4 linked regions of the Homo sapiens genome follow. The protein of the gene in region 3 purifies or fractionates together with the protein of the main gene of each other region. This does not show direct contact. Each region holds a gene or a part of one and is shown on either strand. Other genes may lie near its edges. The genes, in order: KDM5C, PPP2R2D, IER2 and RGPD8.

Region 1 (7,120 bases), on a different chromosome or scaffold from region 3:
TATATATAACCCATTAACATCATTCTTTATTTTGATGTTCACAGCCCCAGATTTGGCCAGTAGGAAGCCCTCTAAGCCCCTGTGTCCTGTGGCACATCTCCATCTTTTTCTGAGCCCTTCCAAGGAGCCCCGGTTCTTTTTAGTAGAGAATGACATTTAGAAACCAAGATTTGGGCACTAGGTGTTACAGCAATATTTTAAGAGCTTGCTCTTTTATTTTGCAAAGGTTTGAGCATCCATTGATGATTTCTAGCTCCATCATTCCTTCTATATAATTTAGAATTCTACTTTCCCTTTTCTCTCACTTTATTTACTTATATCAATGTGGAGTCATGGATTTTTATTTTAACCAGTGAGTTGTAATCCACTACTATCATAATTCATTTTGAATTAACATTACTTTGGATAAATCATTTTATTGTTATGTATATGTATAAGCACATACTATACATCTATATTTCTATACTAGACATCGATATTTCTCTGTCTCTGTCTAATAAACCATGAGTTCACACAGATACCTTGAGGAGGCTCTTTTAAGAGTCCAGGCTAGAGACAGTAAAAGGCTCACAGGAGGAGTGGAAGATGGCAAGGAGGAGGGGATGGATTCTAGAGCTATTTAGGAATCAGAACCAACAGCTTAAACCTACTTCAGAACTGGAAGAGATCATATTTTACAAACCAAAAAAAGTGAGACACAAAGTCAGTGTCAGCCCAGTTGATCCACAAAACATGAATGGGGTGCGTGTGGTTTTGAGCCCAGACGAGCCTTCCAGTCACTGCTCTGCACCAACTCCATGTCAGACCCTGTCTCCCGGGTGGATGGGTGAGGCCAAGCCAGCCCCCAGCCTGGAGTGAGTTTCCTGATGCATCCCAATTCTTAAGTCCCCAGCGTCTAGACTCCGGTTGTCCCCCAGCAAGACCCATGGCTTGGGGAACAAACCCATTTCCTGAATGCCTTACTACATGGGGAGCACCATCTGAGACTCTTACAGGCAGAATTGTACGGCAGTCAGACAGACCTGGGTTTGAGTTCTGGTCCTGCCACTTACTAGCCATGTGACTTGAGTAAGTTTACACTTCCCTGAGCTTCAGTTTCCTCATCTGTAGGATGGGGATAACAATACCTACTTCATAGCACCTGGCCCTTGATGAATGGCAGTCATCATTATCTCTAATCCTCCTAACAACACTGTGAGGAAGGGATTATTTAGCTTCATTATACAAAGGAGAAAATCAAGGCTCAGGAAGATGAGGTACTTGGCAGATCTCAGTGGGTGCATGTCAGCTCCAGGAAAGTAGAGACTACATCTGTCTTGGTCACCATTATATTCCCAGTGCCCAGAAAATTTGCTGGTGCATAGTAGAAATTTAATAAATATTTGTAAACGAATAAATTCTATCTCATTGGCTTCAAAGACTACATAATTTCTATTTAATCTTCTAGGACGGGTGTGTCTGGGCTAAAGGACCTCAAAGAAGGCTGTAGGAAGACTGTGCAGAGCTGAGACCCAAAATCTGGCCTCCTGATTCCTGATTCATGCTCTTTGTACTTCCTTGAGCCTCTAGATGGAAAGGCTGAACTTCCTTCGGCCTAAGATCTACCGTATTCTCCCACCTTCTAGATTCTCCTCACCCTTCTCTGGCCAGGCCTCTGCCTCCTTTTCATCTGTTTCTTCCACGCACCACCACCACTACCACCATCACGGTCACAGCCACGGTGGCCTGGGGGTGCTGCCCGATGGGCAGTCCAAGCTCCAGGCCCTGCATGCCCCATATTGCCAAGGACTGGGCCCTGCCCCACCACTCTACCTCCCACCCCAGCAGCTCCCTTTTCCCTCACCTCCTCCACTCCTGGTGAGGGCAAACGACAGGAAGAGCATTTGACCAGAGTCAGCAACTTCCTGTGTATCATTGGGCAAGTTGTTTAATCTTTCTGGAACTTGGTTCCTCATCTACAGACTGGGTAAATTCACCTACATCTTTCTGAAGACTGTTGCAAAGATTAAGGGAAATAATTGGTATGAACTAGCCATGTAGGCAATTAGATGCTTATCCATGTGAGAGGCTAGTGATATTACTGTGATTAGCATCACTTTGCCTAGTTTTCCTGCTTCCTGTCCAGACAGCTGTTCAGTTGGATCATCCACCTGTGTTTCTGGTGGAGAGGGGCTGAGGTTTCCCCTGACACCTAGAAAACTAGAAAGATGTCACTTAATATCTGTGTCACTTGGGACAAGTCTCCACACGAGCCAAGTGGGGATAAAGATCTTGAACATTCAAGGTAATATAAGGATTCAGGTGATAAAAAAAAAAATACAAAAGCACTAGCACAGTGTCTGACACAAAGGAGATTCTTAATGAGTTTTGGCATATTGGTTGTTGACTCTCAGAAATAAAAATAACAGCTACCAGATACTGAGGGCCTGCTATGTGCCAAGTACACAACAATTCTGCAAGGTATGTATTATCCCCATTTCAGTTACAGAAGTTGGGACTTGTTCAAGGTTACAAACTAGAAAATGGCAGAGCTGGTGGGACTGCAAGGCATGACTCTTTTGAGCCCAGGGCATGAGCTCCTTCCTACCTGTGTGCCCTGTTCCCTCAGCCAGGATGTCCTTAGCTCAGTCCTGAAGTAGGCAGGATGGACCTAATTGGCACAGTATCTGATTAGGAACAGTTAACTGCACGAAGGTATGACACTCCCTATCTGCCTCGAGCTTACAGTGGATGTTTAATATGTTAAACAGGAAATGTTTGCAAAAAGTATTCATATTTTTCAGTCAATATATACTAAGGACATTTATTCATTTTTCTTTTGTTTACTCAACATTCATTTACTGCTTAACATGCCAAGTGCTAAGGATGTATAAGGCCACATGGTCCCTGCCCTTAAGGAATTCATAGTCTGATGGGGGAAAACAAAATTACTTAATCAGCATGTACGCAAGTACTCAAATATTTGCACAGTAGGTGTTCAAACTATATGCAGTAGGTCCACAGCTGATGAATGACACAGATGATCCTCCAATCAGTAGATGCCTGATGTATATGTACAAAGTACTGGTTTGATGATACTCATTCAAAGTACTGTAGTTGCAATGAACCTATTCAGAAACTGCTCAAGGAACATGCACACGATAGGACTAAATGTACATACAGTTGGTACCAAATGCACAGGGGCTATACACAATAAATACAATAAAAGTACACGGATGTTTGGTAAGTGCACTGTAGGCTCACAAATGGGCAAACAGGTGTTTTACACAGTTGACACTGGATAAATACGCCGTTGCTAAACATCCAATAGTTAAAGTATACATACACACAGGCTTATTTTGTAGGAGTATATGCCACAAATGTGTACATGGTAAAAGTGAATACAGAACAGTTGAAAGCGTTCATTAAAATGCTGACTCCCAGTGACTTTTGGGGGGTAAGAATCGAAACCCCATCTCTCTACCTGTAACCTTGGATGAAATAAAGATTTCCTTCCTTTACTTGGGACTCAGAATCCTAAAAATCCATAATCCCCGGGGAGTGAGCAGCTTCCTGCCTTCCTTATTTCAAAGCCCCAGAGGTGTCAGTGTCTAGAGCTGGAGCCTAGTACATCTCCCCCCATCCCGCGGGCCAGCATAAGGGGTCCTTTGCAATCAGGCTCCCAGAGCCGCCTTCCGCGGCCCATACCGTTAAGACCAGGGAGAAGGGACAGAGAACACTGGTGCGGGGCTAGCGACCTGGTTGAGGTCTGCGGGGGAGTGCCGGTTTGACTCCACCACCCACGGACACCAGCTCCTCTTCCGGTCTCCATAACGCGCATGCGCATCACTGGCCTTTAAACGTGCACCGCCGGTCCATCCGGAAAGACGATCCGGCAAACTAATTACAATCTTGTTCCTCCGCCGTTGCAATGAACTATTTTCTCTCAGTCCGGGGTGGTACTTTTGAGTAACCCCTTCCAAATAGAAACCCATACCAGCCTATTTAGCTCGGTCTCCACTATATGAAGGTTTCCTAGGGCTTGGTGTGACGCAACGTATACGAGGCTCGGAAGGACACCCCGCGGAAGGATCCGGTTTGTTGTGGTGTGGGGAGGGGAGACGCTGACAAACCAAGATGGCGGCGGCGGCGCTGAAGGCCGCGGCGTTTGGGAGGTAACTGTGGTGGCGAAGGCTGCGGTAGTGGGGAGGCAACCACACAGTTTGGAAGAAACGGAGCGGGACGAAGAGGCGGTAGCAGTAGAGTCAGCCTGAGACTCTCAGAGCACGACGGCCACACGCCCCCTTAGGCCCTCGGCGGGCGGCGGCTGCCCCGCTTAGGGCCTAGCCTCCGAGCATTGCCTCGGCTTCAAACAGCGGCGGCGCCATGAGTCCTTAAGGGCGGTCCAAGCCTCCCGATCCCTGGCCCAGACCTCGGGCCCACCATGGAGCCGGGGTCCGACGATTTCCTACCGCCACCGGAGTGCCCGGTGTTCGAGCCTAGCTGGGCCGAGTTCCGAGACCCTCTTGGCTACATCGCGAAAATCAGGCCCATCGCAGAGAAATCGGGCATTTGCAAGATCCGCCCACCCGCGGTAAGCCCCGGGGCCGGTTTTCGCCGGCGGCGAGACGGAATGAAGCAGTAGGATAGCCAGCGGCGAAGTCTGGGGCGGAGGGCAGCTCGAGGTGGGGAGAGGGGGTGGCTGGGACCGTTGTGGTTGCGGCGCGGATCGGAAAAAGGGTGTTGGGCCAGGGGTCCTCTCGTGGTGTGAGGCCCACAGGTGACCTGGAGTCAGAGATCCACCCCCACCCCGGCCCTTCAGAATCACTCCGGGTTTAAGACAGGGATTCCTAGTGGGCCGGAGGGAGTTCACAGAGAGGCACCCCGCACATCTCTTAGCCCGGGCCACCTAGGTCGAGGCTGTAAAAATAAGACGTTTCTCCAATCTGTTGTCATCACTTCCTTTAAGGCAGGCAGCATAGTATAGTATTAATAGAAAGATCGCAGTCCTGAAGGGAGACAGACTTGAGTTCAAAACTCCACTTTGAAGCTGAGCAGCTGTGTGACCTTGGGAAAGTAGAAGTAATCTCTCTGAGCCCGTGAAATGGATCCCAGAAATGGTTATTTAGAGGATTGAATTAAACTAGGTAGCGTCTGTATGTAGTACGCACTAGATAAGTGGTAATTATTGTGACTGTGAGGGTGTTTGATGTGGTCATTGGTTTATTCCTATGTAGGTTGACTCATATTTACTCATACCTTGCCAGGCCAATTCATCTATGATAATATCCTGGCCTGCTGGACCAGTCAGGAAATCAGTCTCACAGGGATTGCTCTGTCTCCCTTGAGGTGGGTTCAGGGAATTGTCCTCTTCTTTTCCTCGTTGAAGGCAATGTCAAGGCCTTTTCTGCACATCATCCCGCAGACTTGACTTCCTATGGAGATGTTTGGACCGGTCAGCTTGGTGGTGGGGTGTGAGTCCTTCTCAGAAGATTTCTACTCTCCTCTGGTCCAGGATGTAGGAGATCCCAGAGGATAGGGCACTCTTGGGCCCGCAGAACAGAATGGAGCCATGGAATTCTGTCCCTTTTGGAACATGATTGCCAGGGGTCAGCAACAAAGGCCATAGCTTTCCTCCTAGGCCTGGCTTCAGGCTAGAAGTCTCCCAAGGGCTAGGGCAAGCTGCTGCCTTGCTGATATGGTGGAAAAGTGATGATAATGTTCAGTGATCAGTTGGGATTCCAAGGGCAGAAATTGAGCTTTGCTGGAAAAGGGTGTTTTTGAGTGGGTGTCTCCTGGCTGAAATGGAATAGGAAGCTTCATTCCCACCTGAGGAGGGCACCACAGGCCTCCTTATCCAACTTGGTGCTTTCTGGTGCTCAGCCACAGATCTAGGATGGTTTCAGATAGATCCTCTAGGAGGTGTTGGGTAAGCGAATTTCTTCCTTCTTGGAGTCTGGCCACAGATTTCTGAGGTATCCTTGTCCATGGTGAGGGAGTGGCAGTGGGTAGAGGGTCAGGAAGGCTAGTGGAAGGGAGAGGCAGGAGTCCTGGGCAGCCTCAAGGAGGCACTCCCTGAAGTGGTTGGGCAAGCCTGTGGGAAAAAGAGGCATAGCTGACGTAGGGGGTAGTTGAGGCCTGAATTCCTTTTTTCTATCTTGGACTGACTTAGGCAGGCTGGCCTTGTGTAGGTGTTGTTACCCTGCTTTGGGGCATCAGGAAGGGGAAGAGTGACATGTCCCAGGTGTGCATGGCCAGCAGGAGGCCGTCCTTTTCACTGCTCAACAGTGTGCTTCTCTCTAATCCAGGATACCTGGCTCTCTGGTTTGGTTTTGTTTTTTCCTTCTCTATGGCAGCTCCTAGGCCACCTTTAGGCAGCTGGCCTTCTTCTGGTTGAAGTTTGAAGTACTCGCTCAAGTGATGCTTGGGCCCAGGGTGGGAACCTGTATATGGGTGGGTACCTGGGAATTGGAGGTTTGCTGGAGGAAGGATGGTTTGGGGCCTGAATTGCTGGGCAGGTGACTGCTACGCTTGGGAAAGATGGGTGGGAGGAGAGTGTGGGTACCCTGAGTAGACCCAGTGGAGTTTGGAAGGATCTTGCTTTCTTCATCAGGTAGCCAGCCTTTTTTTTATCACCACATCCCAGTAATACCAACATACATTTGGCATACAGTAGTCTGGAGATGAAGGCAGGCGGTTTGCAGGGCCTTCCCAGGTATCTGTTGCATCCATGGCTCCTGCCGTAGCATTCCAGGGCTGCCATTTCCTGTCAGGTGCTTGATGTTGCACTGATTGTCTAGAACTTGATTCAGCAGGAAAGAAGGGTGCCCGGAGTTTTGGGTTTGAGCACCTTTTTAGCTGGGTTACCTGTGCTGAGGGGAGTGCCCTATCCTGATGAGAGGCAAGAGGGCATGGGGAGCTTGTCTGGATTTGAGCCATACCATTTTGGCCTGCCTGTTTTTTTTTTTTTTTGTCCCTGCTTACTGAGCCCCAGATGTTTGCCACCTGCTTTGGCTGGTAGGGGCAGGGGAGTGTGGTCTGTGTATGCATGCAAAATATGAGTCCTCTAGCCCATTTTCTAAAAGTGTGTGTGCAGAAGAGGTCAACAGTTTTTCTTCTCTTTCACTGTCTCTCCCCCCCG
Region 2 (7,148 bases), on a different chromosome or scaffold from region 3:
AGATTCTAATACACACCAGGCATTTTCAATTCAGCTGTGAGATCTGAAAAACAATTTTAAAAAATAAAATTGCTGTCAATACTCAGAAACTTGTAAACACCAATTAGAATCCAAACAGAGAAATTCATTGAGCTATTAGGTTGGCGCAAAAGTCATTGTGGTTTAGCCAAATATTTTAAGTTTTTAGCATCATAAGAAGAATAGTTAAAAATCTCTTTTTAAAAAATAGTTAAAAATCTCTTGCTGGTCAGCTGATGCACAGTGGGACGCAGGGAAGGCAGCCCCCCAGTCTCAGGAATATGTTACTTTTGTGGCTATATCTTGTTTTTAGTTTAATTTAATGGGAGCTAATGAACCAGAAAATACATTCTAAACAAAAACTAATTATCTTGTCATCACTTCAAAAGACATATTTAACACACATTAAAGCAGTTACATAGGAACTAAGAATAAAATCCTACATCCCCCACTGGCTGAACGAACACCCCTGTGGCCAGGGGGGGCCCCAGGAAAACCTCAACACTGAGGCTATAATGGGGGATGGGAGGTCAGACAGGCCTCCTGATACCCCCGCCCTTTTGTGGTTTGGACACAACAGACCAGCGTTAACGTTAAACTAGAGACCATAAGACTGACAGAACGGACTCTGTGGCAGTAAGATGCCAAATCATAAACAGGGCCTAAGGCCGTGCGGGGGGAGGGTGAAGCCACGCACCGCACACTTACAGAGAAAACGTCGTTCCCACTGCTGTTGGGTTTTCCTTCCCTCCAGCAGCTAAATAAGCACTGGCCTTGATAGGAGCAACATTAAGCAACTGCAGCTCCACCAGCCACTAAGTGACCCCCAGCCCTGCTCCAGCAGCCGTAACTACAGCTTTCATTGGACAGAAGACTGTAACTGTCTCCTGATAAGAAACCACCGACCTTGGACTGGTTCTGGCCGGTTTACAGAGGTTGCACATCTGCATGCCTTCCTGTCCTGAAAAGACCTCTTGAGGTACAGGGCCTAGTCCTAATTTACTTATTTATTTATTTATTTATTTATTTAGAGACGGAGTCTCGCTCTGTCGCCCAGGCTGGAGTGTAACGGCACGATCTCGGCTCACTGCAACCTCTGCTTCCCAGGTTGGAGGGATTCTCCTGTCTCAGCCTCCCAAGTAGCTAGGACTACAGACATACGGGCGCCACCACGCCCAGCTAATTTTTGTATTTTTAGTAGACAGGGGGTTTCGCCATGTTAGCCAGGCTGATCTCGAACTCCTGACCTCAGGTAACCTGCCAGACTTGGCCTCCCAAAGTGCTGGGATTACAGTCGTAATATATTCAAATGTTTAGTCTCCCCGACAGAGTGAGATTGGGTCCTATGTTACATAATACACGTGTCAGGAGCCCCTTCCTGAGTATTCATAGCTCCTCCCAAAGCCTGTTGTCTATGTATGTTTAGCCAACCCGTTCAGCATAGAGCTCCTGCCCCAACTCCTCCTCCTACGAAGAGCCATCTCCCATCTTGGCCTGGGGGATGGCCACCTTGCTGGCTGTAACCATTTATAAGAAATAAAGTTCCTCTTTTTCTAAATTTATAAATTGTCAGGTTTTTAAGTTAACAAATAAAAGAGATCTGGTCATTAATTCAGGTTTTCAAGTGTCTTCCTGGGCAGATAGGCTAAATCTACATTTTAAAAACAAGATTACAGCCCCATTTTTCTGCTCTTCTTCTCCTCAACAGAGAAGTAGGTATTCACTGCCTCTAGTTCCTCTCCTGCCACTGTCCCCAGAGCCCTCTGCAAACTTGTGATCTGAGTCCATTCCATAGCCACCGCTCCGTCCAAGTCAGTAATGGCCTCCCAGTCCCTACAACCAAATGGTCACTCCTGTATACTCATCACATAGCATCACAGAGCAGCCACTCCCTCCTGTCTTCAGTGGATCCTGGAGATGGGTTCTCCAGGAGCCCACCTCGCAGGCTGCTCACTCATCCTCCACGTCCTCACCCCTTCAGGGCTCTGTCCTTGGTCCTGTCCCCCATCTGTCCTCCCTCCTGAGGTGACCTCACCCAGTTTCCTGACTTGAAATGACCTCTAAATGCTCTCACCTTGATGCTCTGGCTCTGACTTCCCTGTGTGCTCCCAGCCTGTCTGTGCAACAGCACTATGTGTTGACAGCGAACCTCTGGTCGGGCTGCACCGCCCCCACCCAGCTGTGCCTTCTGCTGCAGAAACTCCATCCTTCCAGGTGCTCAGACCACCCGAGAGCAGGCATTCCTAAGTCCCTGCTTTCTCTCACACCGCATCTTTTCCATCAGCAAATCCCAGGGGCTCTGCTGTCGAAGCACTTTTCTCTGAAATCTGACTGGTTCTCACCACCCCACCCCATGTTCACCACTCTATCCTCATCCCCATGCCTGGTCAGCCCAGCTGGCCACCTGATTGGTCTCCCTGCTTCCCCTCTTTGGGTCCCCACAAGCTATTCTCAGCAGAGCATCCAAAAGCCCAAGTCCATCACGATCGTCTTCTGTTCATGAGCCCATCTCATTCAGAGTCCAAGTCCCCTAAATGGCCTGCCCACTGTCCATCCTCCTCCACTTACCTCCCTGCCTTGACTCCAACCCCTGGCCTCCCCTCCACTCACTCTGCACCCACGCAGCTTCTGGCTGCCTCCTGCCCATGCCAGGCATGGCCCTCCTTCCTGTCCTGGCACTTGGTGGTCTCCCCTTCCTGGCCAAGCTTTCCTAGACGTCTGCATGGTTTGCTCTTTATCCTTGAGTCTTCTCCAGTCACCCCGTGCAAGACTCCAACTCTCCCCATACACATTTCCTTCTTCCCTGATTTTTCTCTCCAGCTCCGACTTATTATGTATTTATTTCCTTATTGTCTGTCTCCCCCACTGAAAGGTAAGCTCTACCAGGGCTGAGATTTCTCTGCTCTGTTAACCTCTCACCCCCAGGGCTGTGGAGTGTGCCGCACGTGGCAGGAGCTGTCAATAAATAATATTAATGGAGTGGACGAATGTTCCTGATTTGCAGCGACTGTCTTTTAGTGGTGCAATACCATCAGTGCCCACCGCAGCTACCCTGAAAGAAGTTCTGATTCCGGACATCAATCCCATAGGGACAGTCCCCCTGATGATAGCTCGACTTCAGATTTTTCAACTTTACGACGGGTAGATTGGGTATTAGATGCATTTTTGACTTAGGAAGGGCTTATTTGCGGGGAGGGTAGCCCCACTGTAAGTCGAGGAGCACCCATGATCGCTCAGTATGCCAGAGAAAACCACCCGCAAATGAAACGATCGGCCCTGTTTCCCTAAGACTGCACTGGGAGCTCCAAGAACCCCTAAGGTAGCCATCTGGTGAGCAACGGTGCGCTCCGAAAGGGAGGTGGACAGGATTGGGAGACCGAGGCCGGCAGATGGCTCGAGCCCAGGAGTTCGAGACCAGCCTGAGCAACATAGACCCCCGTCTCTACAAAAAATTTAAAAATCAGCGAGCCTGGCGGCGCGTGCCTGTGCTCGCAGCTACTTCCGAGGCTGAAGCAGTAGGATGGATTGAGCCCAGGAGGTCGAGGCTTTTAGGGAGTCGAGATCGCGCCCCCGCACTCCAGCCCGGGGAACAGAGCGAGACTCCGCGTCGGGGGCAGTGGGCGGGAGGCAGCGCTCAGGTACGGCGCGCTCAGGTGAGGCCGGCCCACATGCCCGCCCACCGCCGCCAAGCGCGTCCTCCATTGGCGGTTCCACGGAGAACCCACGTTTCCATTGGCCGATGCGGGATGGGGGCGTGTCCGGCCAAGCGGCGCCCTGAAGGCGTGTCCGGCCGCAGCTTAGGCTCTCCGGGAGTCCCCGGAGAGTAGGGGCGGCCGGCGGCGCTAGTCTTCTGGGGAGCGCCGGGTGCACACCGGACCACTGCGGGAGGCCTAGGGCCGAGGGCCGAGGAGCTGGCCTGCGCCCGGCGACCCCGGCTTCCCTCCGCAGTCGCCCAGGCGTCCCTTCCCCCCTACAGCCGAGCGGCGCCGGGCGCAGGCGCATTGGGCGCCCCCGGCAGCCCCCGCGGCCCGCCCCGTCCGCTGCCCGTCCGAGGAGGCGGAGGGCGATGACGTCATCGAGCGGGGCGACGGGCATTGGGCGCCATTTTGAAAAGGGAAAAAAATCCCTCCCCGGCGGCGGCGGCGGCGGCGGCGGCGCCGGCGGTGGTGGCGGCCCCGGGGCTGAGCGCTCGGCTGCAGCGGCGCGGAGGCCGTCTCCCTGGTCTGCCGCGGTCCCCGCCCGTCCCGCCGCCGGCTGCCATGGCAGGTGAGGGGTCTGCGCGGGCCGGCGGGGACCACGGGGGCGGGCGGGGGCCGCGGCCGGCCTGACCGCCCCGTTGTGTTTGCAGGAGCCGGAGGCGGCGGCTGCCCCGCGGGCGGCAACGACTTCCAGTGGTGCTTCTCGCAGGTCAAGGGGGCCATCGACGAGGACGTGGCCGAAGGTGAGCCCCGCGCCGCGCCCCGCCCCGGGACCCTCGCGGACAGCTCCCAGCCCGGCCGCGCGCGGCCTCCGGGCCCCAAGCGTCCGTGGAAGGCAGGCAGGAGGATGGGGGCCGGGCGGGGCAGGGGCCAGGGGCCGAGCTGGGGGCCGTGATCGGGGGGCGGCCGTCCTCTGTCCGCTGTCCCGGCCCGCGGGGCACGGGCGGAGGCGTCGGGCCCGCGGCGGGACTTATGTAAGTCACCAAGGTCACGGGCGGCCGGGTCCTCCGAACCCAGCGCCTGGGGCTGCCTCCTGCCCGGGGCGGAACCGAAGCCCGGGGCTGCCTCCTGCCTGGGGCGGAACTGAGGAGACCGCGGCGGAGCCGGGGACGGGAACGGAGTCCATATCGTGCGCTCGGGCAGCGCGGCACAATGGCCCAGAGGCTGGGAACGCGCCTAGGGCTGGGTCGGGGCCTCGGCCCCCACCAGGCTCTGCGTTTCATCGGCGGTGCGCTCTTGAGCGAGCTGGTTGCCTCGGCTCCCTGATTCTTAAGGTCTGCTTTCTGCGGTTCTAAAATCCTTGAATTTTACTGTGAGGTACTGCTACTTTCTCTACTGATATATTTTAAGGTCTCTATTCCAGATTTTAGTCTTGAACTTCATGGTATTACTTGAAGTTCACTGGTCTTTTCCTTAAATCATACTCTCAAATTGGCCCAGGCACAAAGTTTTAGGGTGGTGGGAGGGAACTGGGAAGTGCCTCCCACCCCAGCTTCCCATGAAGCTTACCTGTCACCTTAAAGTTAAAAAGCTATGTAGCTTTCCTTTTTCACCGTTGAATGGAGAACTTGGTCGAGTCTTAGAAGTTTGATTAATATTTCAGATTCAGAGTCATAGTGACTTTTTTGTTGTTGTTCATACATCTTACTGAACATTGTAAACCTTTAACCTTTTCTTAAAAATGATTGGTGTTTGCACCAAATACACCTTCCCTGCCTCAAGTTACTAAAAGCCCCTTGTCAGACGTCCTGTTCACTTCCCTCCATCTCGGCCCCCCCAACCCCGTGAACTTTTACTCCCTCTTCCCTACCCTGTACCTCTCCCTGGCAGTGTCTGGTTTGGCACATGACCCCTGAGGACATCTGGAGATTCTGCGCCCCCTGGGACAAACAGGGCCTAGGTTATTAAGCAGGTGAAACTGGGCTCTAAGAAATGCGTAATATATATGGTTTGAGATTAAAACTAGGTGCATTTTATGTGATCTAAAAAGTTTATTGATTTTATTTCTTTAAAATGCATTACTTTTTTTGTTTGATTTTGCATATGCTAAGCAAGTGACAGTTCAGCCTTACTCAAGTGTGATTTCTGTCGCAAGTAAAGCAAAACTTGTTTGGGAGTAGGAAAGTGAGAGGGCTTAATGCTTGCCTTAATTTCTGTTAACTCTTTATTTTGTTTTTTGGAGACAGGGTCTCACTTTGTAGCCCAGGCTGGATGGAGTGCAGTGGTGCGATCTGGGCTCACTGCAACCTCTGCCTCCTAGGCTCAAGCGATTCGCCCACCTCAGTCTCTGAAGTAGCTAGGACCACACACACGCGTGCACCACCACACCAGGCTAATTTTTGTATTGTTGTAGGGGATTTCGCCATGTTGCCCAGGCTGGTCTTGAACTCCTGGGCTCAAGTGGTCTGCCCACGTCAGTCTCCCAAGGTGCTGAGATTATAGGCGTGAGCCACCGCACCTGCCTGGTTTCTTTACTTAAAAAAAAAAAAATTATTGATAAGCTGAATGAATTAAAATTTAAGTATAACTAAGGTAGTATATTTTAAATGTGACTGTACACATATGAAAATAGTATTCTTTCTTTAAAAAAAATCTTGGGCCGGGTGTTGTGGCTCATGCCTATAATTCCAGCACTTTGGGAGGCCAAGGTGGACAGATCACTTGAGGTCAGGAGTTTGAGACCAGCCTGGCCAACACAGTGAAACCCCGTCTCTGCTAAAAATACAGAAGTTAGCCGGGCGTGGTGGCACATGCATGTAATCCCAGCTACCTGGGAGGCTGAGGCAGGAGAATCACTTGAACCCGGGTGGTGGAGGTTGCAGTGAGTGGAGATCGTGCCATTGCCCTCCAGCCTGGACAATAGAACAAGGCTCCATCTCAAAAAAAAAAAAAAAAAAAAAAAATCTTGACAAATACTTTGTTCTCTGAATTAAACTGATGGGAACTTTTTGCAGTTTTAAATCCCTATTTTAAGTTAAATTTTGAGTAAATCCAAAAGTTTGGTATTTCGAGTTGTCGTGGTTTCTTTTGTAACATTGCTTTGTGGTAATTATCTGCATGTGTTTTGGTTATTCTGTGTATTCAGAGCTGTCTATTTTAATCCATGTATGCTTTGGCCATAGTAACCCATCCAGATTAACACATTTATAAGTCACCATCGATTTGTCCCATAGTTGTGATACCGTTGCTTTGTATTAACACCAGAGAGTCAGTGATGATGAAGGGAAGTGTAGTCGTTAGTCACCAGGGATTGCTGAGCAGCAAGGATCAAGAAGCTGGTCATGCCCAAACGCAACCTTGAGGGAGAGATGTTGGTGAGAGATAAGAGATGGGTGGCTGGGTACGGTGACTCACACCTGTAACCCCAGCACTCTGGGAGGCTGAGGCGGGTGGATCACTTGAGGTCAGGAGTTTGAGACTAGCCTGGCCAAT
Region 3 (7,538 bases):
CAGGCTTGGTGGCGGGTGCCTGTAATCCCAGCTACTAGGGAGGCTGAGGCAGGTCAGAATCACTTGAACCTGGGAGGCTGAGGTTGCAGTGAGCCGAGATCACACCACTGCACTCCAGCCTGGGTGACAGGTTAAGACCTTCTCTCAAAAAAAAAAAAAAAAAAAAAAATTACCGGGTGTGGCAGTGCATGCCTGTAATCCCAGCTACTTGTGAGGCTAAGGCAGCAGAATCGCTTGAACCTGGGGGGCGGTGGTTGCAGTGAGCTGAGATCGCACCACTGCATTTCCAGCCTGGGTGTCAGAGTGACCTTGCCTCAAAAAAAAAAAAAATAAAATAAAATGGGAAGAGCTAGAATCCGTGTTTCCTGGGTTGAAATGAGGATTTAAAGAATTAATTGATGGGGGACACTTACAGCAGTGCCCAACACATAGTAATGCTAGTAAATGTCACATTTTACTATTTGTTTATTTTTGGGGGGATTTTAGCTGGGATTACAGGCACCTGCCACCACATCCAGCTAATTTTTGTATTTTTACTAGTGATAGGGTTTCCCCATGTTGGCCAGGCTGGTCTCGAACTCCTGACCTCAAGTGATCCACCTGCCTCAGCCTCCCAAAGTGCTGGGATTACAGGCGTGAGCTACCATGCCTGGCCCAACAGATGTTTGTTTGTTTGTCTGAGACAGAGTCTTGCTCTGTCACCTAGGCTGGAGTGCAGTGGTGTGATCTCGCCTCACTGCAACCTCCACCTCCCGGGTTCAAGCAATTCTCCTGCCTCAGCTTCCCAAGTATCTGAGATTACAGGTGATCACCACCACGCCTGGCTAATTTTTGTATTTTTTGTAGAGACAGGGTTTCATCATGTTGGCCAGGCTGGTCTCGAACGCCTGACCTCAGGTGATCCACTTGCCTGGGCCTCCCAAAGTGCTGAGATTTTAGGTGTGAGCCACCGTGCCCGGCTCCAACAGATGTATTTTAGAGTTTGGACTTGAATTCCCCCAAGGCAGCACATCTGGAAGGCACGTGGGCACTGCTATGGGATGACAAACTGGGAGGAGCCTCAGTCCCCCACCCTCCCCGACCCCACGTACGCTTATGAGGGAGAGAGAAAGGCTGGTGGTTCTCAACATATGAAAAATATCAACAGAGAACACCAAGAGAAAAAGTGGACTGACAGAGGTGGTTGGGAGAAACACAGAAACACACACACACACACACACACACACACACACACGGCAGGCACATTACAGAGGAAACTAGCAGATATTAGGATATGAGGGGGGAAAATGCAGATACACTCAGAGGCCAAGTGCACGCACCCAAATAGGTTAGGTGCATGCACAGATGAAAAGGCGGGGGCGGATCACCTGAGGTAGGGAGTTTGAGACCAGCCTGGCCAACATGGGGAAACCCTGTCTCTACTAAAAACACAAAAATTAGCTGGGCATGGTGGCACACTCCTGTTGTCCCAGCTACCCAGGAGGCTGAGGCAGGAGAATTGCTTGAACCCGGAAGGTGGAGGTTTCAGTGAGTCAAGATTGCACCACTGCACCCCAGCCTGGGCAACATGCCAAGACTCCATCTCAAAAAAAAAAAAGGAAGCTGGCCGGGCGCGGTGGCTCACGCCTGTAATCTCAGCATTTTGGGAGGCTGAAGCTAGTGGATCACAAGGTCAGGAGATCAAGACCATCCTGGCCAACATGATGAAACTCCGTCTCTACTAAAAATACAAAAATTGGCCGGGCGTGGTGGCTCACACCTGTAATCCCAGCACTTTGGGAGGCCGAGGCAGGTGGATCACGAGGTCAAGAGTTCAAGACCAGCCTGGCCAAGATGTTGAAGCCCCGTCTCTACTAGAAATACAAAATTTAGCCACGCATGGTGGTGGGTGCCTGTAATCCCAGCTACTCGGGAGGCTGAGACAGAATTGCTTGAACCCGGGAGGCGGAGGCTGCAGTGAGCCGAGATCACGTCACTGCACTCCAGCCTGGGCGACAGAGCAACACTCCGTCTCAAAAAAAAAAAAAAAAAAAAAAATTAGCCGGGTGTGGTGGCATGTGCCTGTATTACAGCTACTCAGGAGGCTGAGGCTGGAGAATCGTTGAGCCCAGGAGGCGGAGGTTGCAGTGAGCCGAGACTGCGCCACTGCACTCCAGCCTGGCAACAGAGTGAGACTGCATCTCAAAAAAAAAAAAAAAAAAAAAAAAAAGGAAGTTATGTGCGATGGCTCACGCCTGTAATCCCAGCACTTTGGAAGGCTGAGGCAGGCAGATCAGTTGATGTGAGGGGTTTGAGACCAGACTGACCAACATGACAAAACCCTATTAAAAATACAAAAATTAGGCCAGGCGCAGTGGCTCATGCCTGTAATTCCAGCACTTTGGGAGGCTGAGGCAGGTGGATCACCTGAGGTTGGGAGTTCAAGATCAGCCTGACCAACATGGAGAAACCCCGTCTCTACTAAAAATACAAAATTAGCCAGGCATGGTGGCGTATGCCTATAATCCCAGCTACTCGGGAGGCTGAGGCAGGAGAATTGTTTGAACCCAGGAGGCGGAGATTGCGGTGAGCCGAGATTGCACCATTGCACTCCAGCCTGGGCAACAAGAGTGAAACTCCATCTCAAAAAAAAAAAAAAAAAAATACAGAAGTTACCCTGGCATGGTGACGAGCACCTGTAATCCCAGCTACTTGGGAGGCTGAGGCAGGAGAATCGCTTGAACCCAGGAGGCAGAGGTTGCAGTGAGCTGAGATCAAGCCACTGCACTCCAGCCTGGGCAACAGAACAAGACTCTGTCTCAAAGAAAAAAAAAAGAGTAAAAGGCAGGCATGCGTCCTGGAAACAGGTGCACACAGGACAAATGGCATGGAAGCAGAAAGGAGATAGGTACACAGGCCCCCAGCCCTCTCCTGCAACAGGAAACCAGTATAGACCCAGAGGACACAGTAGAGAGGAACCCACGGACATATACACATAGAGAGGTTCAGGTGCACACACCGAGAAAGTGCAGGCAGGTAGACAGCAAGAAGATAACTGCCCACAGAGAGGACGGGCACTGTCGCAAAAGGGACAGGTGAACACGCACAGAGGGATCTGGCTTGGTTACCCCCAGGGGCTCAGGTGGGCAGGGTGGGTCAGGAAGGCTTACCTCTCTGTTATTCCTCTCCAAAAATGCTACGGCTGTTGGGCTGACCATATGGTCCTTCATTTCCTGGAGGTAAGGACAGCATTAGGGAGGAAAGACACTCAGGCTGGGCGCGGTGGCTCACGCCTGTAATCCTAGCACTTTGAGAGACCAAGCCGGGTGGATCACCTGAGGTCAGGAGTTCGAGACCAGCCTGATCAACATGGTGAAACCCCGTCTCTACTAAAAACACAAAACTTAGCCGGGTATCGTGGCAGGCACCTGTAGTCCCAGCTACTCAGGAGACTGAGACACAAGAATCGCTTGAGCCTGGGAGGCGGAGGTTGCAGTGAGCCGAGATTGCAACACTGTACTCCAGCCTGGGCGACAGAGCGAGGCTCTGTCTCAAAAAAAAAAAAAAAAAAGAAAGAAAGAAAGAAAAAAAAACACACTCAAACCTTCCCCCACTCCCCGCCTGCAGGACCTTTCCTGACCTGGACTGCCTCTCGCATCCGCTCCACGAACACCTTTCTCTCCTGCAGGTCCCCGGCTGGGAGCTTGAACTTGCCTGGGTTGGCTTCCACTATACGTGGGCTGAGAGTCAAGGGTCAAGGCCGGAGCCAGATATCATCCCCGTCCCTAGGGGTCCAGCCCTACCCGAAGGTGGGCTGCCACCGCAATGGGCTCTCCCATGCCACCCTCTGCCACAAAGCCCCAGGATATCGATGGTCTCTTCCAGGTCCTCGAGGTCCCACTCGATGCTGCGCAGGCCATTCCGCAGCTCATTGGTCGTCCAGTCCAGCTCCTCGCGTCCGACCGCCGCGCTTTCCTGCAGGAGCTCGCACCAGCGCTGGTACAGCCCGCGGGCCGTGTTCACCGCCTTCTGCACCTCGCTGCGGGCAGGGGCACGGCGGGCGCGGCTGGGGGCAGGCGGTCCTCCCGCCTGCCTCTGCCCCCGACTGCAAACCCAAACGCATGGGGGACTCCGGAGACCCCTATATACCCCTGCGTGCGCCTCCCACTCTGCACCCCGACGGCCTTGCCCAGCCCGCCGGGCACGCTGGGGCCGGCACCCGGGCACTGGCTGGCTTGGGTACAGAGCACCCTCCGCCCTCCCCCGTCGTTGTCACTCACCCTCGGACTACAAAAAAGGGGTCTTCGAGAGACATGTCAGTCCCTTCCCCCCCAGGCCGAACCCCCCTCCCGGCCTGGGTTCGCGGGCTGGTTCCCTCCCAACCGAGGAGAACGCGCCGCCACCCCCGCCCCCGTCACGCCACCATCGAGAGCCGGACCGCCAGGGGAGAAAGAGAAGCCTCGGAGGCCCGACGTGCGGACACTTCCGCCCTCTCCTCAGCCATCTTGGTTGTGGGCAGAGGCAGCTTCCGGTGCACATGCCCCCGCCCCTTAGCCCTCTCGTGCCGCACCGTAGGGGGCGGTGTCGGAGTTCTGTCTGGGCCTATTCGGGTCCGAGTTCGGAATTTCGGTTCAAGGCCCAGTTCCTCGGATTGTTCCTGCGCAACTTCAGTTTCCCTTCCAGGCACGGGCAATGTAAATAATGATAGCCTCCCTCATCTCTGGCGGCTGGGTATTATGGCTGGGGAAGGGGCTCATTCGATTCGTTGAAGCTTTTCATGGACTCCCTGAGCTGGCACCTGGGAGATCGTCCCATCCCAGGGTCCCGAGTGTCAGGTTTGGCTAGGGTCTGGGGGAGAGGTGGTCCTCCCTTCTCCCTGCGGGGGCGCGGTGAGGAGCGGGCCTGCTCCTCCGGGGAGTTCTGCCGCATTCTCCCAATCTCTTTCCTGAGAAGTGGCGGAGTTGGGGGCACTTCGAGGTCGCCTTGGGGCGAGGTGGTCGTGAGGGGGTCCCAGATATGCCAGCAGCGGGGGGAGGTCACCTTTGAGAAAGTGCGTGGAGGTGGGTTTCTTCAGAAGCGCGGAGTCTTTCTGGGTGCGAGCCTGGGGGTAGCGGGTGGTGGCTTTGAGGATGGTCTCCAGGGGGGCCCTCTGTGTGTGGGGTCTCCGTCTGGGTAGGGGCCAGGAATATCAGCGGAGGGACTCAGGGTCGTCCCTATGTGTGACAGTGGCGCTGTGTGTTGGGGAGCTTCGGGAAAGCACTTTTTTTGAGTGATAGGGGGCCTGGTCTCCCCTGGAGGGTGGGCGGGTTATCTGAGGGAGTCCTCGGAGGGTCGCCCCCTTGCGCGTCAGAGTTGCTGCGTGGGGTCTCAGAGATAGCGCCTGGGCTGGGGAAATCATTGTGGGGTCTCCGTGGTAAGGTTAGCGGGGTGGGGACGGCCTGCGTCTTCGGCAGGTCGTCGCAGTCTGGCACCATCGTTGAATGGGGACGAGTTTGGGAAGGGTATTTTAGGGGGGAATAACTTTTGAGTTCCCAGCGTGCGGGGGAAGGGCGGGACGGGAGGGTGTCCCAAGGCCTGAGAAGATCAGTGTGGGGCAGGGGTCAGGAATAACCTGGGAGGGGGCCTTGTATGGGGGAAATAATTGGGAAGAGGAGAGATGGGATGAAGGGGGCCTCAGCGGGTCGTCTCCTGTGTATGCAGGGTCGTTCTGCAGCGTCTCTGGGAGATGGCGTCCCTGGGAGCCCTCAGGTCGCCCCTACCCGCTGCGGGGTGCTTTCCTGGCGTCACGCCTTCCTGGCCCCTGGAGGGAAGGAAGTGAAACTCTCCTCTTCCCCCACCCGGCTGGAATGCGAGTCAGGAAGCCTGGGGCTCCAGCCTGCTCCGGCTGCCCGGGTCGGGGATGGGGAGGGGCGTGGCCGGAGCGCAAAGCCCCGCCCCTCCGCGCCCCCCCCCCGGAAGCCCCGCCGCCGGCCGCTAAGGCGATCACGGGCCCTGTCCTAATATGGGCAACCGGAAGCGGCCCGCGCGACTGCCCTACGTCACTCCGTCCAAATTTAGTTGTGGAAGTCAGCGGGCGCTGGTGGCGGGAAGGCGCCGCGAGCCAGTGCGGGCGGAAAGGGGGCGGGGGGCGCACCACCCCTTAAAGGGCCCGCACCAGGAATGAATGGAGCCATTCGAACAATTCTGCATCCTATTTTTGGAGGAAGTGGAATTAGTATTTCTTGGAGAGACGGCGCGTAGCGGAGGGTAGGGCGGAGATTTTCTATCTGCTCTGTCTCTGCATTGCTGGGTTTCCAGCTCCCAACCTAACCCCGCCTCCCCGAACGCGGAGACGGAACTCGGCCCCCTTGTTTGGGGGGCGGCAGCCACGTGTTCACGGGGACTGTCGTGCGCGCCGGGTTCGCAGCCGTGCGAGCTCTGAACCCACCCGTGGAGCTCCTGTCGCGGGAAACTGCGGGGGAATGGCTTGGTACGAATCACGGGAACCCGTAGCCCGGGGCGGGTCACCGCCTACAAGCAAGGGCTGGCGTACGCTAGAGACCGAAGAGCTGGAGGCCCCAGTGGCCCCCTTTCACAGCAGTAGCAAATATTGTTTGTTTAGTAAATATTGGCCTAGTGACTCTGCCTTGGTTTCCCCACTTGAAGGAAGCAGATAGAACAGTATCCTCCGAGGAGTGGAGGCTGGGGATCGGTGAATTATTGATAAAAGGAGAGCTCTTAACCTAGCCTGGCACGTTGTAAGCGCTGTTAGCATGATTATTGGTGCAGAAAACACTCATTAGACACACCTGGTAAATGCTAAGAACAGTGGCCACAGGGGATGTTCAGGCTGGAACCAGGGTCTTCCCCTGTGTGAAGGGAAACTTGCTGCCCACGACCCACTGGGGCCTCCAGACGGGAGCATGTGGGTAGGCCGTGAGCTCCACCCCCGGCCCCCCTCCCTTGGGCCAAGGCGCTGATGCATCGGCGGGGCTCAGAGAAAGGAGCCCACCCAGAAAGCTCAGCGTGGAGTCGGGGGACGCTCCTCCTCGCCAGGGTTCCCGTCCCCTTTCCCTGCTGGGTAAATCGCATTCTGTCTCTTTAAGGAGTGTTTGGCCGCGACGAGTTGGAAAGCCCGGATGCGTCCTTCGGTTGGGCGGGGTGTCTCAGTGACGTCACTGGGGGTATAAAAGGGCCTGGGTGGCGGGCGCCTGGGCAGAGCGTCCTAGCAGTGTCACTGCGTGGGTTGGTTTGTGTAGAGAGGCGTGAGCGAGCCCGTTGTCCGGAGTGCACCTGCTGCCTGTTCTGTCCCTCCCGGGAGCCCCCGCCGCTGTCGCCGTCGAGTCGCCATGGAAGTGCAGAAAGAGGCACAGCGCATCATGACCCTGTCGGTGTGGAAGATGTATCACTCCCGCATGCAGCGCGGTGGCCTGCGGCTGCACCGGAGTCTGCAGCTGTCGCTGGTCATGCGCAGCGCCCGGGAGCTCTACCTCTCGGCCAAGGTGGAGGCCCTCGAGCCCGAGGTGTCGTTGCCGGCCGCCCTCCCCTCTGACCCTCGCCTGCACCCGCCCCGAGAAGCC
Region 4 (6,800 bases), on a different chromosome or scaffold from region 3:
CCCTGTCTCTAGTAAAAATACAAAAAATTAGCCGGGCATGGTGGCCGGCGCCTGTAGTCCCAGCTACTTAGGAGGCTGAGGCAGGAGAATGGCGTGAACCTGGGAGGCAGAGCTTGCAGTGAGCCGAGATCGCGCCATTGCACTCACGCCTGGGCGACAGAGCAAGACTCTGTCTCAAAAAAAAAAAAAAAAATTAATGACCTCTGCCCCTAACTGAACAAAGCCCTTCATCTAAGGCCACCCTTTGGTTGGCAGCCTTAGCCAGACATCTGCTTCTGGTCAAATCAATGTCTTGTCCACAGGGAGGCCCAGCGCTGTTTCTGGTTTTAGCTGGATGCAGGGTGTCAGACATGGCAGGTACTACGGTCTACCTGGCGGGTATCAAAGAGTTGGTCGACGTTCTCACAACAACCTAATAGGGACCAACCATGGAAGGCCAGTAGTAAAGGAGTTTGAAGTTCCCTTTCAGAAACCAATTAACAACCCCAAAGAGACAGTGGGTAACATAAAAGAGCAGCCATAAAAATATACAGTTTTAATAGAAATATTAAAATAATCATTACACTTCCTCTCATTGCAGAAACCATGAAAGAATATGCCTTTTGTAATCAAAGTAATTTTTTATCATGCAAAAAAGTATTTTGTTATGACATTCGTAAGTGGAGACTGTATTTCAAAACAAGTTTATACAGACTTCAAAAGGTCTAAAGTCAAAGTGAAATATATTTAAATATGATTAGTTACATCTAATGCAGCTGGCATACTCATATTCACAGTTTATAAAGTAAAAAAACTAAACTCTTCATGTCGGCTCTGAAATAGATGCATTTTCATTCATACATTCGCTAGTTAGGTCTGTTCTTCTAAGGAGGAAAGACGAGATATATGAGATATTTTTTAAAGAACAAACTCAACATATCAGCAGCAAATTTCAGTTAAACTAAATTGGAAACCAATGTTCTGTGTAACCAAAGTGCAAAGTCAGTTCCCCAGCTCAGAAAGAAAATTAAGAGTATAAACTGAAGGCTTAAGAGAACTTCAGAGAGCACACTGTGTGATTAATACATAAATATTAAAAATTATCCAATTTTTGATTTAAGAACAACACAGTTTGGATCTAGTCATTAAAACATATGCACAGGTGTCAAAGGCAAGTAACACTACCACCTAAGGTTATTCGGAGGAACTGTGAAGATGTAGCACGGACCTCTAAGGTGTCTAAAATCCCTTCTGATGGAAAGGTTATGGAACACTATCTGCCAAAAACACTGAAAGCACCACTTTTATATTTAGATCCAATGCTGAGTGATATAGTCACTGTTGGGATAGGTTTTTATTTGGGAAAATGGAGAGGATTCTCAAAACAGATTCATGGCTTGCATGCAGTGACACCCTATCAAGAGCCTGGAAAGACACCATGAAATCACCTCAACTCAAGTGGTGGGCCCACCTACTCATAGTCAGTGTTACACTAGCCAGCTCTAGGGCTCTGACAACATAATGAGTTTTGAGGTAGTATACTTTAAAGAAAAAAAGAAGAGTTTATTTTAAAGCAAATAACTAAACTGTATTTTAACTTAGCACAATTAACTGCAGCATATTTACTTCATAGCCCCTTAACATGTCACTTTTACCAACAAAGCTTTTTCCTTCATATTCTAATCACAAAAATTTCTCAACAATTTATAACAATCTGTAAATCTGACCTTGCAATAAATAGTCATAAAACGTTATTTTTATTACTATTATTATTTTTAGAGACAAGGTCTCGCTCTGTTCCCCGAGCTGGAGTGCAGTGGTACAATCACAGCTCACTAGCCTCAAGCGATTCTCCAGCCTCAGCCTCCCAAAGTAGTGGGATTTCAGGCATGAATCACCACACCTGGCCTTGAAACATTATTTTTAAAGCCTAAATTCCAGTTGGTATGGTACCAAAATTTAGTTTAACTTCAAAATTCACAGTACTGCCGAGAAATGGGCGGGTCCTGAGGTTCCAGAGAAGTGGGGAGTGAATTCATTCCTGGTGGTTTTATTCTGGCAGCATGCATGGGAGATCACATGAGTTAGAGGGCTGTGGCCTGGTATCAACACTTCAAGCTGTTGTACTTTTACTTCAAGTTGAAACTTTTAAAATACATCTGTCATACAGATGTACAAATATATGTAAATGCAAACACATATACACACTTTTTGACAAAAGAATAATGGTAACACACACGAACCATTTTTGTAAACAGATTCTATTTGGTTAATAGAAGTATTCCTTCCATCAACCTATCGAAGTCCAAACCAACTACGAAGATAGGATGCTCATCCAGAAGAACGGGAAGGATTTTCTTCCTCATCTTTAGAAAGTAAAACAAAGAAAAAAAAAAGAAAAAAGAGAGTATTAAAATTTCTCAATGTAAAATCTATATTTTAGAACCACTCTACAATATAAGCAAATAATGTCTTTTTTACTGATCACATGCCTTTTTTGGTGGGGGGGGGGGTTCTTTTTTTTTTTTTTTTTTTTTTTTTTTTGAGATAGGGTCTTGCTCTGTCACCCAGGCTCGAGTGCAGTGGCGTGATGAGACTTCAATGCAGCCTTGATCTCCCAGGCTCAAGTGATTCTCCCACCTCAGCCTCCCAAGCAACTGGGACCACAAGGTGTGTACCACCATGCCTGGGTAATTTTTTGTTTTTTTGTAGAGATGCAGGTCTCACTGTTTTCCAGGCTGGTCTCAAATTCCTGGGCTCAAGTGATCCTCCCACTTCAGCCTCACAGTGTTGGGATTGCAGTCACGAGCCACTGTACCCAACCATATGTCATTCTTTAGACACACTGCTTACTAAATTTCTCTTTTTAAAGGATATACTGAATTTCCGGTTGAGCCAACTTAACAGCTAATTTTCTATTTTAGCTTTAAAACATTGATAAGCAACATGAAGCAATCTAGAACTTAACCTTTAAATGGCTTTATTAAAGCAATCCAGCTATGAAAATTATGCAGAAATGATTATCTACAAACAATCTTACCAGCACATAAGAAATTCTTCCTCTATTCTGAAATACCATCTTCTCACAATATACTTTGATGTTATGAATCAATGTCTGTTCTTGAACATTATTTATTGTCTTTCTCTATTAAACAATTCCAAAATAAAATTTCCAGCACAACTAAATATTGTTGACGATAAGAGGATTTTAAAAAAAATTCTTTTAAAACAGAAGCTTATATACAACTTAGAATCTAAAACCAATAGATTTATGGGAAACCTTAAAACTGAACCACAACAAACAAAAACCAAAGTTTTAATCATTTAAAAATCATGTTTATTGAGGTACAACTTACTTATAGTAAAACCTGCCCTTTTCAGCATATAGCACTGAGTCTTGACAAATGCACAGTTACGTACCACCACCGACCAAGGCCTGGCACATTTTCATCTCCTCAAAGTTCTCCCTGGCTGCTTCTCCCACTCCTTGGCAACCGCTAACCTGTTTTCTGTCCTTATAGTTCTGCTTTTTTCAGTGTCATATAAGTAGAATCACACTGTACATAGTATTTTGAGTCTGACCTCTGTCAACTGGCATAATGCATTTGAGAATTACCCATGTTGCTGAACTGGCAGTGCATTCTTTTTTATTGCTGAGCAGTATTCAATTGCACGGCTGTACCAGTTTGTTTATTCATTTGCCAGTTGAAGGATAACTGAGATCTTCCTCGTTTTTAGCAATTTTAAAGAAAGTTTCTACGAATAATTGTGTACAGGTTTTTAATTAAATGTTTTGGAGATATAATTCATATACCACATAATTCACCTTTTTAAAGTGCATAATTCACTGGTTTTTAATATATTCACAAGGTTTGTGCATAGGTTTTTGTGTGAATACTGGTTTTCATTCCTCTTGGATAAAGATTTAATTTGGTATTACCCTTCCAGACACCTTTCTGTGTTTTCATACGTATATATGTATGACAGTTTGACCTTAGGCAGAGTAGCATTTTCAAAATTTTACATGGGGAAACTTTCTAGAGTTACAAGTCATTTTATTTTTCTGTTCTGTCTGGTTTTATCTGCGTGTTATTTACAATCTGCTGCGTAACAAATTACTACAAACTTAGTACCTTAACACATATTTATTTCACAGTTTCTGTGGGTCAGGAGATCAGAAATGGTTCTATTTCAAGGTCTCTCACAGGGCTGCAATCAAGATGTTGGCATGGCTGGGGTCTCATCTGAAGGCTGGACTGGAGAAGAATCTACTTCCAAACTTATGTGGTAGTTGGAAGAATTTAGTTCCTCAAGGCTGCTAAACTGATGGCCTGTGTTCCTTGCCTCTGGGATGGTAGCTTGCTTCAACAAAGTGTGCAAGCAGAGAAGACAGAGAGAGGCCGCTAGCAAGATAGAAGCCACAATCTCTTGTAATCTATCATTCTTGCTGTATTCTACTGGTTAAACATAACTCATTAGGTTAGCCTACTGGCTCTCAAGGGGAAGAGATTATACAAAGGCATGCATTTCTGGAGGAGGGAATGAGGGCAAACAATTCTGAAAAGTCTGTCTTCCACAACCTGAAGAACTTCTAGAAAGTAGGAGGAAGCGATATTGCTTAGGGATGGACAACTTGGCACTGGTTATGTGTTCCAAGTGAGGTAACCTTGTTCCCAAGAATAAAGAGAACCAGACGACTGTAAACATTTCCCTAAACTGAAATGCAGACTGTTGTATGTTCACCTGAAATGAATGGTGTAAGCTGAATATAAGATTTTTGACAAAATAAAAATTTTGCTGTGTTCTCAGATCTGGCAGGCTCCTGCCCTTGTGCAAACAATGTTCCTGGCAGCTATTCATCTCCTTAGGTAAATAAGAATTGGAGAAAAGCTGTGCTTAGATAGGGTGCATTTGCTCTTGCCTTGGAAGGCTGTTTTCTGATAAGGTTCTATATCCTCTGCAAATCAAATCAGGCACTTACAGTGTGAGTATGCATTCTCTTCCTGCCAGTCTGGAGATGATCAAAAAGCCTATAACAGGCTTGGCCTATTTTCCTATTGGGTTGCTGGGCTTTTTTTCTTTATTTACTTGTAGAGAGTTTTAGACCTCTGTGTATGTATGGTGTACAAGTGACAATATTCAGATCTGTAAACTGTAACCCAGTCTGGGAGCAAAGAAGATATAGAAAAATGACTTTTACTTCCAGCTTTAGTAGTAAAATTGAGATTCAAATTTTGCATATAGAAGTACTATATGGCTAACTTATTTGGGGAGCAAAGCTGACTTACCATAAGTCTATCTCAAATAGAAATGAAACACTCAATTTGTGAAATATGCTGAGTTTTAATGCGTGTGGGGGCAGGGTGAATTAACATTTGTGATGCAAGGAGAAGAGCAATCTATACTTACCACTGTCTATTTGACATTGGGGACTACTGCTACACTCTAAGTCATTTTACCTTATAACGCAGAGTTGTAACACGCTACTCTGAGCAGCTCATGACATCTGCTTGAAATTTAAGTTGGGCCCCTAATATGTGTTTATTATAAAGATTTTGATGCTGCTTTTCAGAGTTGGGTAACCTACTTTACCCCCCTAAGCTAATGTTTCCCAAATACACCCAAACCCACAGAAAGGAAAACTATTCCTCATTAACTCACAGCCAACATCATAAACATTTTATATCTAGAGCTGATGATACAGTCAGGTATTTACCAACACTCATGTATATATGTAGAGTTTCAAGAAATAATTGCTTATCCTTACCAGATTCAACATATTCTAACGTTTCACATATTATTTTTATTTCTTAATATTTTTTTAAAGATGGGGTTTTACTCTGTTGCCCAGGCTGAAATGCAGTGGCGTGACCAGGATTTCGACCAGAAGTTTGACTGCAGCCTCGAACTCCTTCTAACAAACAATCCTGCTGCCTTAGCCTCCCGAGTAGCTAGGACTATGGGCACATGCCACCAGATCTGGCATATTTTAAAATTTTTGTAGACATAGGGTCTCGCCATGTTGCCCAGGCTGATTCTGAACTCCTGTTCTCAAGCAATCCTCCTGCCTGGTCTTCCCAAACTGTTGGGCTTACAGGTGTGAGTCATTGAGCCCAGCTTGTATTCTTTTGATTTAAAAAAAAAATATCCTGAATGTGATCCACCAAATTAATTTCACCATCCACTAATAGGTAGCAACCTGAATGAAAAATACTGTTATAAACTTTACACAAAACCAGAGATTATAAACATTTGCCTCCAAGGAGATGAGAGAGGCAAAAGGTACTTGTTTGCTCTGATGGGCCCTGTTTCCTTCAGTGCCAGGAAGAGTGGCTCTCAGACCTTTCTTCTGGCATCCCTCATGTATGCAGTGTTGGTTATTATTTTCAAGGCCTTGGTAACAAAATGCCCCTAGTGTGACCAGTCAGACTGACAGTCCATATCTGTAATATGGTGGTAAGTTTCCTTTGCATGTCTTTCTTTCTGGCATCTTAGACCTTTTACCTAGGAAATTTTCTTTTTGCTTGAAGTACATCATTAAGAATTTCCAGTGAAGGCAGATTCTTAAAGTTTTTGTTTTCCAGAAGAGATCTTGGAAAATATAAAAGGTTGGCAGTTATTTCTTTTAGTACATGAGATAGTATTACACCAATGCTGTTGAGAAGTCTATTGTGAGGCAATGTGTCTTCTTTCTCTGGCTGCTTTTGAGATTTCTCTCTGTCTTTTTTAGGGGCAGTTTTACTCTTATGTGACTAGAAGTAGATTTCTTCTTTTTTTTTTAATACTGCTTGAGATTTTACTGGGTTTTTGAATCTGTGGAT

The links.
Region 1: the proteins of IER2 (region 3) and KDM5C purify together in Homo sapiens (affinity purification with mass spectrometry; 3 studies listed by BioGRID and IntAct, with this or other methods). This does not show direct contact.
Region 2: the proteins of IER2 (region 3) and PPP2R2D purify together in Homo sapiens (affinity purification with mass spectrometry; 4 studies listed by BioGRID and IntAct, with this or other methods). This does not show direct contact.
Region 4: the proteins of IER2 (region 3) and RGPD8 purify together in Homo sapiens (affinity purification with mass spectrometry; 3 studies listed by BioGRID and IntAct, with this or other methods). This does not show direct contact.

What each region holds. Positions count from the first base shown.
Region 1 is NC_000023.11:53,222,193-53,229,312, reverse strand, and holds the start of KDM5C (lysine-specific demethylase 5C), read left to right. Parts: upstream 1-4,105; 5' UTR 4,106-4,423; coding exon 4,424-4,573; intron 4,574-7,120. UniProt on the Homo sapiens protein: Histone demethylase that specifically demethylates 'Lys-4' of histone H3, thereby playing a central role in histone code. Does not demethylate histone H3 'Lys-9', H3 'Lys-27', H3 'Lys-36', H3 'Lys-79' or H4 'Lys-20'.
Region 2 is NC_000010.11:131,896,872-131,904,019, forward strand, and holds the start of PPP2R2D (serine/threonine-protein phosphatase 2A 55 kDa regulatory subunit B delta isoform), read left to right. Parts: upstream 1-4,136; 5' UTR 4,137-4,277; coding exon 4,278-4,284; intron 4,285-4,366; coding exon 4,367-4,459; intron 4,460-7,148. UniProt on the Homo sapiens protein: Substrate-recognition subunit of protein phosphatase 2A (PP2A) that plays a key role in cell cycle by controlling mitosis entry and exit. Involved in chromosome clustering during late mitosis by mediating dephosphorylation of MKI67.
Region 3 is NC_000019.10:13,145,880-13,153,417, forward strand, and holds the start of IER2 (immediate early response gene 2 protein), read left to right. Parts: upstream 1-4,531; 5' UTR 4,532-4,673; intron 4,674-7,064; 5' UTR 7,065-7,307; coding exon 7,308-7,538. Other genes in the region: STX10 (syntaxin-10), read right to left, coding at 3,150-3,212, 3,620-3,714, 3,849-4,018, 4,260-4,294. UniProt on the Homo sapiens protein: DNA-binding protein that seems to act as a transcription factor. Involved in the regulation of neuronal differentiation, acts upon JNK-signaling pathway activation and plays a role in neurite outgrowth in hippocampal cells.
Region 4 is NC_000002.12:112,367,868-112,374,667, forward strand, and holds the end of RGPD8 (RANBP2-like and GRIP domain-containing protein 8), read right to left. Parts: intron 2,346-6,800; coding exon 2,311-2,345; 3' UTR 502-2,310; downstream 1-501.